Linked DNA regions of Homo sapiens. The protein of the gene in region 2 purifies or fractionates together with the protein of the main gene of each other region. This does not show direct contact. Each region holds a gene or a part of one and is shown on either strand. Other genes may lie near its edges.

The links. Proteins that work in one complex are often made in the same cells at the same time.
Region 1: the proteins of SLC16A7 (region 2) and TM9SF4 purify together in Homo sapiens (affinity purification with mass spectrometry; one large-scale study listed by BioGRID and IntAct). This does not show direct contact.
Region 3: the proteins of SLC16A7 (region 2) and CELSR2 purify together in Homo sapiens (affinity purification with mass spectrometry; one large-scale study listed by BioGRID and IntAct). This does not show direct contact.
Region 4: the proteins of SLC16A7 (region 2) and CELSR1 purify together in Homo sapiens (affinity purification with mass spectrometry; one large-scale study listed by BioGRID and IntAct). This does not show direct contact.

The regions. Positions count from the first base shown.
Region 1 is NC_000020.11:32,161,431-32,164,788, reverse strand, and holds part of TM9SF4 (transmembrane 9 superfamily member 4 isoform 1 precursor), read right to left. Parts: intron 1-3,358. UniProt on the Homo sapiens protein: Associates with proteins harboring glycine-rich transmembrane domains and ensures their efficient localization to the cell surface.
Region 2 is NC_000012.12:59,777,502-59,781,338, forward strand, and holds part of SLC16A7 (monocarboxylate transporter 2), read left to right. Parts: intron 1-1,921; coding exon 1,922-2,178; 3' UTR 2,179-3,837. UniProt on the Homo sapiens protein: Proton-coupled monocarboxylate symporter. Catalyzes the rapid transport across the plasma membrane of monocarboxylates such as L-lactate, pyruvate and ketone bodies, acetoacetate, beta-hydroxybutyrate and acetate.
Region 3 is NC_000001.11:109,266,256-109,270,092, forward strand, and holds part of CELSR2 (cadherin EGF LAG seven-pass G-type receptor 2 precursor), read left to right. Parts: intron 1-1,292; coding exon 1,293-1,387; intron 1,388-1,595; coding exon 1,596-1,805; intron 1,806-2,325; coding exon 2,326-2,509; intron 2,510-2,624; coding exon 2,625-2,753; intron 2,754-2,854; coding exon 2,855-3,035; intron 3,036-3,168; coding exon 3,169-3,336; intron 3,337-3,438; coding exon 3,439-3,565; intron 3,566-3,677; coding exon 3,678-3,837. UniProt on the Homo sapiens protein: Receptor that may have an important role in cell/cell signaling during nervous system formation.
Region 4 is NC_000022.11:46,391,067-46,394,903, reverse strand, and holds part of CELSR1 (cadherin EGF LAG seven-pass G-type receptor 1 isoform 1 precursor), read left to right. Parts: intron 1-641; coding exon 642-762; intron 763-3,087; coding exon 3,088-3,271; intron 3,272-3,616; coding exon 3,617-3,718; intron 3,719-3,828; coding exon of another isoform or gene 3,829-3,837. UniProt on the Homo sapiens protein: Receptor that may have an important role in cell/cell signaling during nervous system formation.

The DNA of each region.
Region 1 (3,358 bases), on a different chromosome or scaffold from region 2:
TTAGAGGCTGGGCAGAGATGCTGGGGATCTGTGTTATTTACAAAGGGAACTAATGTGGAACCTTGGTATCAAGATATGCCCAGGGCCTGAGTAGGGCCTGTCCCAGGACTCACAGGCAGACACATGGTCACAGAATGCCAGTAGCCCAGAAGAAAACAGTAAAGAAACAAAGAAAACAAAATAGGTCACCATTTGAAGCCCTCTCCTAAGCCTAAGGGGTGAAGGCCATGTTTTCAGGCTCAGCCCCGCATCTCTCCCCTAACCCCTTTTCTTTAAAGGGACAGGGTCTCCCTCTATTACCCAGACTAGAGCACAGTGGCATGATCACAGCTCACTACAGCCTCACCCTCCTGGGCTCAAGGGATCCTCCTGCCTCAGCCTCCCAAGTAGCTCAGACTATAGGTGTGTGCCACCACACCCAGCTAATATTTTTTCTAGCAATGGTGTCTTGCTCTATTGCCCAGGCTGGTCTCAGACACTTGGACTTAAGTTATCCTCCCACCTCTGAAAACGCTAGGATTATAGGTGTGAACCATATGCACCCAGCCTCCATCTCTTGTTATATGCATTCTTGTGGCTGGTGGTCGGGGGAGGGGTGGGGGAGGGACAAGGAGCAGAACCGTGGTAAAAGGAGGCAAGGGACGAGGCAAAGAGGCAGAGCCAGAAAGTTCCTCATTTTATACATAAGGCATTGGGGCTGGAGGAAGAGATTTTTTGAGCAGAGCAAGAAGACTGGAGCAGAAGGGAGGAAGGACAAGAGGCTGTGATGTGATCTCTAGTTTTGTTTAACCGTGTTCCTTGTCTTCCATATTCCAGATGTTTTGAGGAACACTCAAAACACCTGGTCCTGTTGGGGCCATCAATCCTAGCACAAAATAGGCCAGGTGCGGTGGCTCACGCCTGTAATCCCAGCACTTTGGGAGGCTGAGGCAGACGGATCACATGAGGTCAGGAGTTCAAGACCAGCCTGGCCAACATGGAGAAACCCTGTCTCTGCTAAAAACACAAAATTAGCCGGGCGTGGTGGTGTGCACCTGTAACCCCAGCTACTCAGGAGGCAGAGGCAGGAGAATCGCTGGAACCCGGGAGGCAGAGGCTGCAGCGAGCCAAGATCGCACCACTGCACTCCAGCCTGGGCAACAGAGCGAGTCTCCATCTCAAAAAAAAAAAAAAAAAAAAAAATTCCTAGCACAAGACCTAAGCCAGTCTGTCTGAATATGTGATGCTATTGGACCTGGAAAACAGTGAGCACTGGGCATGTCACCCGAGCAGAGCAGCGTGTCTTCACTGGCTGACGTATCATGGTAGACGAAAGACAGTCTTTTAGCTCTAGGGCTGCAAAGCTGGAAAGAGTAGACTCTAGGGCTGCCACTGGCCATCTTTCTACTTTGTGAAAAGATCTTGCCTGCAGACTGAGGCCAAAAAAAGATACACAGGGCTAAGGCGTGGGCACAGAGCCCTGGTATGTATGTGTACATACATACATACATACATATATATATATATATATATATATATATTTTTTTTTTTTTTTTTTTTTTTTGAGATGGAGTCTTGCTCTGTCACCCAGGCTAGAGTGCAGTGGCACGATCTTGGCTCACTGCAACCTCTGCCTCCAGGGTTCAAGCGATTCCCTTGCCTCAGCCTCCTGAGTAGCTGGGACTACAGACGTGCACCACCACGCCCGGCTAATTTTTTGTATCTCAGTAGAGACAGGGTTTCACCATGTTGGCCAGGATGGACTCGATCTCTTGACCCTGTGATCCACCCTCCTCGGCCTCCCGAAGTGCTGGGATTGAGCCCTGATATTTTTGAGACTCTGGATCTAAGCATGGTTGAGGCTAGAACTCCAATTTCTTAGTCTTTCCAGTTATATAAGCAAATACATTCTTTTTGCTTAAGCTACTTTTTTTCCCTTTTTTTTTGCTTAAGCTACTTTGATAGAGTTTTAGTCACTTGCCACTTATGAGAGTTATGATTAATATGGGCTATAGAGGAGGGAGATTAGATTTGTTCTAGATGATCCCAGAATTAAGACTAAGGTCTAAAGATGGAAGTCACAGCAAGGGAGACTGCAGTGTGAATCAAGACCTTGATAATGACAGGAGCTGTCCAGAAAGAATGGGAATGTTAGGAGGGAGTGTCTTCTCTGTTGCTGGATGTAGTAGAGCAGGGGTCTGCAATCTTTTACTTAGAGGGCCAGATTGTAAATATTTTAGTTTCTGCAGGCCATATGGTCCCTGTCGCAACTACTCAACTCTGCCATTGTAGTGTGAAAGCAGCCATGGACAGATATGTTAATGAATGACCATGGCTGTGTTCCAATAAAAATTTATAGAAACAGGCCTGCTGGCCCACGCGGGCTGCAGTTTGCTGACCCCTGAGCTAGAGAATCATCTGTTGAGACTGTTAGAGAAGAGGGGCACAGTCACCAGACTGGAGGTAGGGGTACAGCACTACACTAAATGATCCTTCCAGTCTTTTCCAACTTGACTGTTTTTGGGAAACGGCATTCCCAGCTTCGATCAACTGACCTACAACTCTATTTTGCAAATACGCCTGACTGCCACAGAGGACTGCTTGCTTCTGGGCTCTGGAGACCCAAAGTACAGCAGGTCAGAGTAAGTCTTGAGTATTAGTTTTGGAGGTGAGGGGCCCAACAGGGCTCCTCCAAATTCCTCTCAATGGCTCATCTGGTTTGTGTATCATGAATGAATCTAGTAAAACTGTCGTGGGGACATCTGTATTCTTGCCCACGTCTCTCTCTCGGGACAATGAGCTCTGTGAGTTGCCCTAGTCAGGTAAGCCTGGCTCCCTCTTATTATTGGGCCACACTTTACCTATGTGGGGTCACAGAGTTAGGAGGGCTCCGAGGTGCCTGTGAAAAACTTTCCCATCCTCTCCTTACTCTGCAGGATTGAACAGTACTTGCGTGAAGAAGAGAACACCTGCAGAGACAGGATACCTGCAGCCCTAAATTTGGGTTCTACTATTTAGACTATTTCAGCATTTTGTGCTTTTATCTTTATTAACTCCTTTCTACTTTTCTTCTTTCATGTTACTCTTATCTTTTCCTTTTTCTCAAGGTGTTATTAGTCCCTCTTATTTCCTGTGAAGAGCACTGCAGGTGACATATTGCTTTCAAGTCCTGCTTTGGCTATGGCTATACCTCGTAAGTTTTACAAGCATTATTCACATTGTCACGTATCCTGATGGCCTTTGTCTCCCAAACATACAGAATACAGATTCTTTCTTTCCTAAAAAGATCCATCTTCTAGAGCAGGAACAGTTCTAGGTGGCTTTGGTCCTCCCCATTCTGGGTGGAAAAGGAAGATTCAGGCACTTGGGTTTTTCTCCC
Region 2 (3,837 bases):
ACTTTCACTGCTCCTCTCAGAAAGAATTGAAGCTTTAGTTCTGGAAAGCATATCTGGTTTCTTGATGATGCTAAAAAATTCTTTTTTTTTTCTTATTAGAGGTATTAGGCTAATTATTATTTAATCCTTAAAATATTTCTTTTATTATTTTTTATTTTATTATTATTAGACTTTAAGTTTTAGGGTATATGTGCACAATGTGCAGGTTAGTTACATATGTATGCATGTGCCATGCTGGTGTGCTGTACCCATTAACTCGTCATTTAGCATTAGGTATATCTCCTAAAGCTATCCCTCCCCCTCCCCCCACCCCACAACAGTCCCCAGAGTGTGATGTTCCCCTTCCTGTGTCCATGTGTTCTCATTGTTCAATTCCCACCTATGAGTGAGAATATGCAGTGTTTGGTTTTTTGTTCTTGCGATAGTTTACTGAGAATGATGATTTCCAGTTTCATCCATGTCCCTACAGAGGACATGAACTCATCATTTTTTATGGCTGCATAGTATTCCATGGTGTATATGTGCCCCATTTTCTTAATCCAATCTATCATTGTTGGACATTTGGGTTGGTTCCAAGTCTTTGCTATTGTGAATAGTGCCGCAATAAAAAATTCTTAAAACATTTAGAAAGTATGCTGATGTGGCAGCCCAAAGTGGTATTAACTCTGATGGGCCATGGACCTAATGCTTTTATATTTAGAAGTATAATAATCATTGTAGAAATAGAAATATTTGACTCAAGTTAAGAAGGCAAATTAAAATTATGCCATTTTTGTTATGTTTATGACTATGTCATGCTTACTTAAATAAACCCATTATACCATCTACCTGATTAAAACAGAAAATTTTGTTTAAATAGGTAATATATTACAAGTAGCCAAATTTAATGTTGAGCCACTGACTAGATTCTAGGGAGAATGCTATGGATTCTGACTAAACAGACTGGTTTGAAAGTTGTATATCAGAATCACTTGGAATGCATATGCTAATTTATATAGATTTGTATACACTAAATTTTGCTGCTGTTAATAATTACGAAGAATTAGATGCCTGCATAAGCAAGAGACAAAACTAAATATAAGCTGACAAAATTTTAAAAGTCAATTAACCTTCATATTAAATGGCACCAGGCTAGATTTTAAATGGTCTCAATAATCAAGTGGAATAGTTTTTTTACTGATTAGTTTCACCTTAATAATTTAGACTCAGATAAAGTGAAAAACTAGGATTAGCTCAAATAGTGACATGGCACTTAAACAACAGGTTAGGTGAAGCCATTCTGCAGAGTAGTTAAGAATGAGTACAGACAGACCTCAGTTAAGAGTCTAGATTCTACCACTAACTAGCTACATAACCATGCCCAGATTACTTCACAGTACTCCTTGTAAGGATCAAGTGAGCTATTACAGATAAAATTCTTAGGCTAGTATGGGGCATAGAGAAAGCACTTAGTAAATATTAGACACTGTTAGGAACCATGTAAAAGCCTTTGGGTTTCTCCTAAAGAAAGTAATTTTTCTCTATTGAAGAGAAAAGGAAGCATGGAAAGGGTGAAGCAATCCTAACGTGTGCTGTAAATAGAGATATCTATATTCACATGTATAGATATAAAAATATACCTCACTCATGTATGTATTAATATATACACACAAAAAATGCCTAGTTTGTCTTGTTTGTATATTTTACTGAGAGAAATAATTTTTAGTAAATTTAATGTACTAGTAATATAATACTGTAAGTGTCTCTGCATACCTTTACTAAGCATATGTAGAAGTCATAATCTAGATTTTTTTATTTTTAAAGTCTTATTTGACATTAATTTAAATAAGAGGAATATACTTTGAAGAATAATTTATTTGAATTTTTATCATTATATGACTGTTTTATTATGCCAACTTAAAAGATGTTCTTTGTCTTCTAGGTAAATTGGTGGATTTAACTGGAGAATATAAATACATGTACATGTCCTGTGGGGCTATTGTGGTAGCAGCAAGCGTGTGGCTGCTCATTGGCAATGCTATCAACTATAGATTGCTTGCAAAGGAAAGGAAGGAGGAAAATGCAAGGCAGAAGACCAGAGAATCTGAACCCTTGAGCAAATCTAAACATTCGGAAGATGTTAACGTCAAAGTTTCAAATGCACAGAGTGTAACCTCAGAAAGAGAAACTAACATTTAACAAGAATCACATCTCTGATTTCAGTGTTTATGACTTTATCTAGGAGTTTGTTTTTCATTTTGTTTTTTTAAAGTATTAGAAAAGGTTTTAGCTGAAATGAGGAGTCACAATTAAGGATGGAGGTGATATTTTCCTCAATGGCAAATTTTAAATTAGTTTTTAAAAACTTACTTATTTGGGTAGTTAAATTTTGAGATTATGCATAGAAAGAATCCATGCTATAGGTTTATTTCCATACCTGACTCTGGGTGTGGTGGTTAAAATACTAATTTTAAAGTCTTCCAGTGACTTTCGGTCTTGGTTATATGGAGAATTCTGAATCCCAAACCCCTGGTTTAAGTAGGTAGAAGGAGGATGCCTAATCCTACAAAGTGACCCTTTATACATTTCATTTTTTATTTGATATTAAAGTATGAGATAGAGTTGAGAGACAATTAATTATCCCCTCTTACACACAAACACACATACTCCCACATACTTACCCACATGTACACAGAGTATCTGGAGAATAAAACCCAAATTCAAAAAAAAAAATGATAATTTATTTTTAAGGTAAAAATAATCCATGAAGATAAAAGAAACATATGTCTGCGTGCTACTTTACAATGTTGGTTTTAAAGATAAGCACATGGGTAAAAATGAGGGTGATCCTTATTCAAAAATAACATCTGACTACTATAAAAATATTTGCATATATAAGTTTGACAAAGAAAAGAAAATCAATGTTAAACCATTAAATCTGAGCACTGTTAGACTTGATTAATCCATGCACATGATTTTTTTTGAGTAGGGAGCATTAGTACCTGGTGCTAGAGAATAGAACCCTCAAATAATTTTTAGAATTCTTACCTAATATGTAAAAGTCTGCATGACTCTTAACAATGAGTCACATCCATTGATTTTACAGGGATTTTAGTTCGTAATCCAGAAAGTAATAATCAGGGATTTTATTTTAATCAGGCATCAATCCAGATTCACTGTTATACTGAAATATCAAAGTAAAATCCTAGTTGGCAGGATTGTAAGTAGACCGAATTCTAATTTTTCCCAACACATAGTGGTAATTGGAGGTTACTGTTATGAATACTCCATCTGACTACGACTAAGAGAGTGAGGGGTGGTTTTAATGAACCCTCTAAGCTCTCTCAGTTCCTTCCCTTCCACAAAATGCAAGAGCAAAAGCAAACTACAAACAGGCCTTGTGCTCAACCACTGGAAATGCCTCCTGGGATAAGAATGGCAGCACTTGAAAATTCTGCCCTCTACTGATGAGACTTCCTGCTGCCTTTGGACATAACTAAGCCAGGAAACTTTAAAAGCCTTCTAGAAATAGAGGCACTGTATGACTTGCAATCGTAGGTATAGTTTATAACCTGATAGCAAAAAACTTGAAATATTGCAGCCCAGTTTAATTCAGCACTTTCCCATTTTCATAACTATGTGAAAACATCTGGGAATTTGAATCACTCCTGAATACAGAGGCATATTCTTTTTAAACTATAAATACCATTTTGAGTGAGAAAGTACTTTTAAACAAGAAAGAAATTGTACATTATGACTAAAGTTATAAATACAATATTTATATCTATAAATCTGAAGTTTAACATGATTAATTTAAAAAGTATTTAGTGCTTGACAAAGTAGTGTCACTCTTAAGAT
Region 3 (3,837 bases), on a different chromosome or scaffold from region 2:
TAGTGGGATGAGGGCAGGAAGCTCCTGGCTGAAGATCCGGGGACCCCACTTTCTGGCCTCCAGGTCCTGGGATTTCATTTCCCATCTTCCTTGGTTCACATTCCCCCTTCCCCATGTTGCCCAGGTGTGCCTACATCTTGGACTGTTTTGTTTTGTTTTGGTTTGGTTTTTTTTCTGGGACAGAGTCTGTCACTGTCACCCAGGCTGGTGTGCAGTGGCGTGATCTCCGCTCGCTGCAACCTCTGCCTCCCAGGTTCAAGCAATTTTCCTGCCTAAGCCTCTGGCCGCCACCACACCTGGCTAATTTTTTTTTTTTTTTTTTTTTTTTTGTATTTTTAGTAGAGACAGGGTTTCACCATGTTGGCCAGTCTGGTCTCGAACTCCTGACCTCATGATCCGCCTGCCTCGGCCTCCCAAAGTGCTGGGATTACAGGCGTGAGCCACTGCACCCCACCACATTTTGGACTTTTTTTTTTTTTTTTTGAGACGGAGTCTCGCTCTGTCATCAGGCTACAATGCAGTGGCATGATCTCGGCTCTCTGCAACCTCCACCTCACAGGTTCAAGCGATTCTCCTACCTCAGCCTTCCGAGTAGCTGGTACTACAGGCGTGTGCTACCATGCCCAGCTAATTTTTTATATTTTTTTAGTAGAGACAGGGTTTCACCATGTTGGCCAGGATGGTCTCGATCTCTTGACCTTGTGATCAGCCCGCCTCGGCCTCCCAAAGTGCCGAGATTACAGGCGTGAGCCACCGTGCCCAGCCCACATCTTGGACTCTTAACAAAAATGCTGAAAAACCTGCACTGTGCTTGGCATAGGGCTGTGCTAGAGATTCAAAGATGAATCATGCAGGGTTCCAATCGTCAGCTCACCACCGAGTCCTGGAGTTACGCCACCACAAAGGCAGACAGTCTGGGGAGTAGGGGGTGTTGGCTGCTGACCCAGGACACCCAGCCCAGGATGGGGGCTGGCGCTGGTCCTGGACTGGCAATGAGCAGGTTCATAGGCAGGAAGTGGCGGAGAGCACAAAGTGGTGGCTGGAGACAGGCAGGATGGGGGCTCAAGGAGGTCGTATGCCCTGTTCCCCTAGAGCCCATGTGTGGACTGATCTTGCGGAGATTTTTGGCCCTGGTGTTCTACATACCTGTCTTCCTGTTTCACCAGGGCCCTTGTTTGCTAGTTACTGTCCCCGGCCCATGAGGTGCTGGCCTCCAGCAGAACCTCTCAGCCAGTCTCAGGGGCTTCCTGTGTGTCTCCCTGAGGCCGGCCCTTTTGGCTTCCTTCCCCCAGGGACTGCTGTGCGCCACTGTGATGAGCACAGGGGGTGGCTCCCCCCAAACCTCTTCAACTGCACGTCCATCACCTTCTCAGAACTGAAGGGCTTCGTAAGTGAACCCCCTCATCTCCATCTTTTCCCTGTCCTTCGTCCTGAGTCTCACTTGCCCCCACTCCCATCTTTGAGAACGGGGCTTCTGGAATTCCAGCCTGTGTGTTCCTGGGCTCCCAGCTGGAGAGGCCGTCTCTCACCTCCTGAGGTCCTTTTGCTCCAGAGTTCCTGCCCTCACTCCTGCTCCTCCGCTCCGTCCTGTCTAGGCTGAGCGGCTACAGCGGAATGAGTCAGGCCTAGACTCAGGGCGCTCCCAGCAGCTAGCCCTGCTCCTGCGCAACGCCACGCAGCACACAGCTGGCTACTTCGGCAGCGACGTCAAGGTGGCCTACCAGCTGGCCACGCGGCTGCTGGCCCACGAGAGCACCCAGCGGGGCTTTGGGCTGTCTGCCACACAGGACGTGCACTTCACTGAGGTGGGGCTTGGAGGATGCAGGGCTGGCTGGTTAGATAGGGGTCATGGTGAGTGAGCCTGCTCATGGCAACCTGGGGGGCAGAGGGGGCCCTCCCATCCCACCTACAAGGAGCTCCCTGCTGGCAGGAGGCCTCCATGAAACCCTGTGACCCCTGGCCCAGCCCTCTTCCCAACCCTTCTCATAGTAACATATGTGTGTTGGGGCATGGTCTGACCCAGAGCAGAGGCCTGCCTGTGGTACCATGGGCTGGGAGGAAGCAGTATCTCAGGACATGTGTGTGGGTCCAGGCACAGGGCTGGGAAGCTCTTATGTAGAGAATGAGGAGGAGGGCTTAGGGGCAGAGCATCCAGTGACCTGAGTGGGCAGTGCGGTCCAGGAGCATTTCAGGGGAGGCAACAGTGAGCACAGAGGGAGGGGCCTGGTGGGGAGCAGGGACTGGCCCGGGCACAGGCCGGGGCTCCATGGTGGGGATGTCAGGTGTGGGTTGTGAGCACACCCACCGTGACCTTGCCCACCCCAGAATCTGCTGCGGGTGGGCAGCGCCCTCCTGGACACAGCCAACAAGCGGCACTGGGAGCTGATCCAGCAGACAGAGGGTGGCACCGCCTGGCTGCTCCAGCACTATGAGGCCTACGCCAGTGCCCTGGCCCAGAACATGCGGCACACCTACCTAAGCCCCTTCACCATCGTCACGCCCAACATTGGTAAGGCTGGTGCCTGGGTTGGGGAGGGGTTTGTGGAGGGAGTCCCCGACAAGAGCGGCTGTGCTGGGGTCCTGCCTGCCTCACAGGTCCGATCTGTGACCATCCCCTTCCTTAGTCATCTCCGTAGTGCGCTTGGACAAAGGGAACTTTGCTGGGGCCAAGCTGCCCCGCTACGAGGCCCTGCGTGGGGAGCAGCCCCCGGACCTTGAGACAACAGTCATTCTGCCTGAGTCTGTCTTCAGAGGTCAGTGGTGGCCATGGATTGAGTTGGGAGCTGGACCCCAGTGTCTGTGCAGACTCCACAGAGAGCAGGGCCCAGCTAAGTGTGACAGTGTCCCCTCCCAGAGACGCCCCCCGTGGTCAGGCCCGCAGGCCCCGGAGAGGCCCAGGAGCCAGAGGAGCTGGCACGGCGACAGCGACGGCACCCGGAGCTGAGCCAGGGTGAGGCTGTGGCCAGCGTCATCATCTACCGCACCCTGGCCGGGCTACTGCCTCATAACTATGACCCTGACAAGCGCAGCTTGAGGTCAGCAGCTAGGGGACAGGTGTGGGTAGGGGTATGGGTCGGGCGGTGAGTGCTGAGGCATGGAGGGGGTCGGGGGCGTCTCCCCAGTCATGTGACTGCCGTGGTGACTGTGCACCTGACTGCCCCACATCAGAGTCCCCAAACGCCCGATCATCAACACACCCGTGGTGAGCATCAGCGTCCATGATGATGAGGAGCTTCTGCCCCGGGCCCTGGACAAACCCGTCACGGTGCAGTTCCGCCTGCTGGAGACAGAGGAGCGGACCAAGCCCATCTGTGTCTTCTGGAACCATTCAATCCTGTGAGCCTGCACTGCCCTCGCCCCCTCAGGCTTCGGGCTGAAAGTCCAGGCCCCTGCATGCCTCACCCTCCTTGTCTCCCTGACCCTGCCTTCCTCACACAGGGTCAGTGGCACAGGTGGCTGGTCGGCCAGAGGCTGTGAAGTCGTCTTCCGCAATGAGAGCCACGTCAGCTGCCAGTGCAACCACATGACGAGCTTCGCTGTGCTCATGGACGTTTCTCGGCGGGAGGTCGGGCCCACAGGGGCAGCTGCAGAGCCGTGGGTGGGCACCCAGGGCACGGGGCTGGGTGCTCAGGTCCTGCCCTTCCTAATTCCCTGGCCCCCTGCCACCTACTCTGCAGAATGGGGAGATCCTGCCACTGAAGACACTGACATACGTGGCTCTAGGTGTCACCTTGGCTGCCCTTCTGCTCACCTTCTTCTTCCTCACTCTCTTGCGTATCCTGCGCTCCAACCAACACGGCATCCGACGTAACCTGACAGCTGCCCTGGGCCTGGCTC
Region 4 (3,837 bases), on a different chromosome or scaffold from region 2:
ACCTCGGAGGCCTGGCTTTGTCCCTGCAGTGTTGCTCATCTTCAGTGTCTGTTGCTCTCTGCCGGGGGAGGCTCAGGGAGGCAGGACTGGCTTCTGCTGGATTCCGAGTGCACGGGCGCATGCCGCCGTCCTAAGGGGCATGCTACACCAGGGCATGGCTGCCCTGAGCATCTGTGGGTCTGGGGGCCAGGGGACCTGGGGGACAACAAAAGCTACAAAACTCCCTGTTTAGGAGCTTCCTGCGGGCATCTCATGCTGGCATTCACCCCAAGACCACTTTGAGAAGTTGTGCCAGGCAGCTGAGCTCAGTCTGCCTGGGGCTGCATCGTGAAAGGCCAGCCTTGCAGTGGGGGTTCATTGTCATTAAGCCCCAATGAGTCAGGCATCATGTGGACGTGGGGCACACGGTGGACAGAGATGTCATCCCAGTCGCTTTGGGCATGGTGGATCTGTGGGTGGGGGGTGAGGTTGGGAGCCGGTAGAGGGGAGACTGAGGCCATGTAACGTGGAAGGGGAAGCTCCCAGAGCTGGACCCAGCCAGGCCTCCTGGGCAACCATCTCCATGCTGCCTGCAGGCCTCTTCTCATTCCAGAAAGCACAGTTACATAAACCTTCCAGCTGCCCTCTTATTTTCCCCACAGACTCGACCTTCCGTGCCCCAGAGGCTGGTGGGGGAACCCCGTCTGTGGACCCTGCCACTGTGCCGTCAGCAAAGGCTTTGATCCCGACTGTAATAAGACCAACGGCCAGTGCCAATGCAAGGTGAGGCCCCGCCCCCATGATCCCTGCATGCTGTGTTTGCTCACACACATGCACAGCTGCCCCTAAATACACACACGCCTTCACATACCCTGTCGGTACACACTCACACCCCTGCACACACACCTGTGCCCACTCACATCACATTTGTGTACAGATGTGGTTTTTGGTTTCCTTGCTGCTCCCCCGTGCTCTGTGAATACTCCATGGCTGCTTTCCACGTGTAAACTACGGGTTCAGCCCTGCCAGCCCCCGCCCGTGGAACAGGAATCCCTGCCTCCTCCCGGCCTACTGCCCATGGCTGTGGGAAGCCCACCCGTTTCTGAGGGCTGGCTCATCTATGGCACCACCCCGGCCCTCCTGGCCTCCTGGTTGGCCATTTTCCTGGTCTTTTTTTTTTTTTTTTTGAGACAGAGTCTCGCTGTGTCGCCCAGGCTGGAGTGCAGTGGTGCGATCTCGGCTCACTGCAGCCTCCGCCTCCCGGGTTCCAGCAATTCTTCTGCCTCAGCCTCCTGAGTAGCTGGGATTATAGGCGCCCACCACCATGCCCAGCTAATTTTTGTATTTTTAGTAGAGACAGGATTTCACCATGTTGGCCAGGCTGGTCTTGAACTCCTGACCTCAGGTGATCCGCCCGCCTCAGCCTCCCAGAGTGCTGGGATTACAGGCGTGAGCCACCGTGCCTGGCCATTTTCCTGGTCTTTACCAAGCTGGTGTCCCATGATGACAGCAGTTTTAAAATAGAAAGTGTCACTAAGTGCGTTATGCCCCACGCCTGTCCAGGGCGGTCAGTCCTAACCTGCATGCAGCACGGAGCTCACATCTCGTGTCTCCAGAAATGCACACGCGTTCTCAGTGCAGACTCTAGGGACCCCTCCCCAGCCCTCTCAGGATACATCACCTCCTTCAGGATCTTCGTGTACACCACGGCCATGGCGCTCACAGTGACTTGAAACCCAAATGTTAGGTCTGAGGGTAACAGGAGCCTGGGCGAGGGACGTGAGCTTCCTGCAGATGCGGCTGGCCCTAGGAGGGAAGCTGGTACCAGGGCACCCTTGGATGCCATCTCGTGATGTCAGTAGTGTCCCCCCCCAGTGCCTGCGGTGGTTCCAACAGCAAATGGGACTTGTGTCCTGAAAGGCTCAAATTAAACAGCTCTCCTGGGTCAGGGTCGGTCCACACGTCACCAGATGGCGGTGGTGGCATAGTGGGTGGCAGAGCAGAGAGAACATGGGGAGTGCATTGGCGAAAACTTGCCTACGATTTTTTTCTCATCCAAAGTTATAGGCAGGGCGTGGTGGCTCATGCCTGTAATCACAGCTACTCTGGAGGCCGAGGCAGGAGGGATTACTTGAGCCCAGGAGTTCAAGACCAGCCTGGGCAACATAGTGAGACTCCCATTTCTACAAAAAATAAAAACATTAGCTGAGCGTGCTGATGCTTGCCTGTGATCCCAGCTACTCAGGAGGCTGAGGTGGGAGGATCACTTGAGCCCTGGAGGTTGAGGCTGCAGTGAGCTGTGACTGCACCACTGCACTCCAGACTGGGCAACACAGTGAGACCCCATCTCAAAAAAATAAAAAAACAAAGTTATACAAAATGTAATAAAAACCCATAAAGATCGCAGTCACCCCATGCGCCTCCCAGCTGTGATTGTTAGTGTTTTAGCATCTCTTCTGGGCCTGTCGTTCACTGTCATTTTACACACAGTCGGAGTCCCCACCTGACACACAGGTCTGAACGTTGCTCACGAGTCTGCCCAAGTCACAGCCTGGTCACAGCCTGCCCCGTTTTCCGGGGCGGGGTTGAGGGGGTGCTACTTGGGCCTGGGGAGTCCCGGTGACCAGCCCAGGCAATGTAGCTGGTAAACGGCAAGGGTCAGGCATGAACCCAGGACTTTCTGAACCCGAAGTACAAGCTCTTGATTGTCACCCTGACCCACCCAATGGTGGACGTTCAGGTGGCTTCTAATTTTTCAAAACAACTTTAAAAAAACGCCCAAGGGCTATCCCCATACGTAAGCCTCCATTTGGATCTCTGATTCTTTTTAGGACAAATACGAAGGTGCCCACTGTTGAGACTTGTTAAGACATGAGGGAGGGCGTGCTTCCCGGAAGAACTGCTCTCCTGGGTCCGGCCTTGTGGGGCCTTGGGAGGCAGCCCCCGTTGGGTGTGGGATGTGGGCAGAGGGTAGCCATGAGGGGTGGGATGGCTGGCGGCCAACACACACACCCGGGTGGGAGTCTGGACGTCGCTCGGGAAACACGCTGCAAGGTAGGGCCTCTCCCGGGCATCTGAAGTCACAGGCCCTGCCTCTGGCTTTTGCAGGAGAATTACTACAAGCTCCTAGCCCAGGACACCTGTCTGCCCTGCGACTGCTTCCCCCATGGCTCCCACAGCCGCACTTGCGACATGGCCACCGGGCAGTGTGCCTGCAAGCCCGGCGTCATCGGCCGCCAGTGCAACCGCTGCGACAACCCGTTTGCCGAGGTCACCACGCTCGGCTGTGAAGGTCCGCGTTGCCCCTCGACACCCTGCAGGTTACAGCGCGGGGACAGGCTGCTGCACTGGCGTGCACGTGTGTGCATGCACGCTGGGTGTTTGGGGGACCCTGGGCTCCCTCGTGTTCTGAGTTCTCTTGACCTTCTAGAAACCTGGTTCTGCGTGAGGGGGTGTGGGTCAGAGCCTGGTCACCCCTCTCCAGCTCTGACATGGATGGGGGCAGGGGAGATGCTAGGGTTCGGTTCTTGGTGGGAGCAGGGCCTCCTGCAGGGAGGCGCATGCAGACAGTGGTGCCTGTTTGTGGTCGTGGGTGTGGCGTGCCCCGCTGAGCAGACTTCTCTCTTCTCTACCCCAGTGATCTACAATGGCTGTCCCAAAGCATTTGAGGCCGGCATCTGGTGGCCACAGACCAAGTTCGGGCAGCCGGCTGCGGTGCCATGCCCTAAGGGATCCGTTGGTGAGTCGCCGTGGCCTGTGTGTAGGGAACTGAGGCAGGCGTCCTTGTGGGAGGAGCCAGTCGAGATGTGGGGACTCATGGAATGTTTCGTGTTGAAAAAATATCCGCAGGCAAAGTGC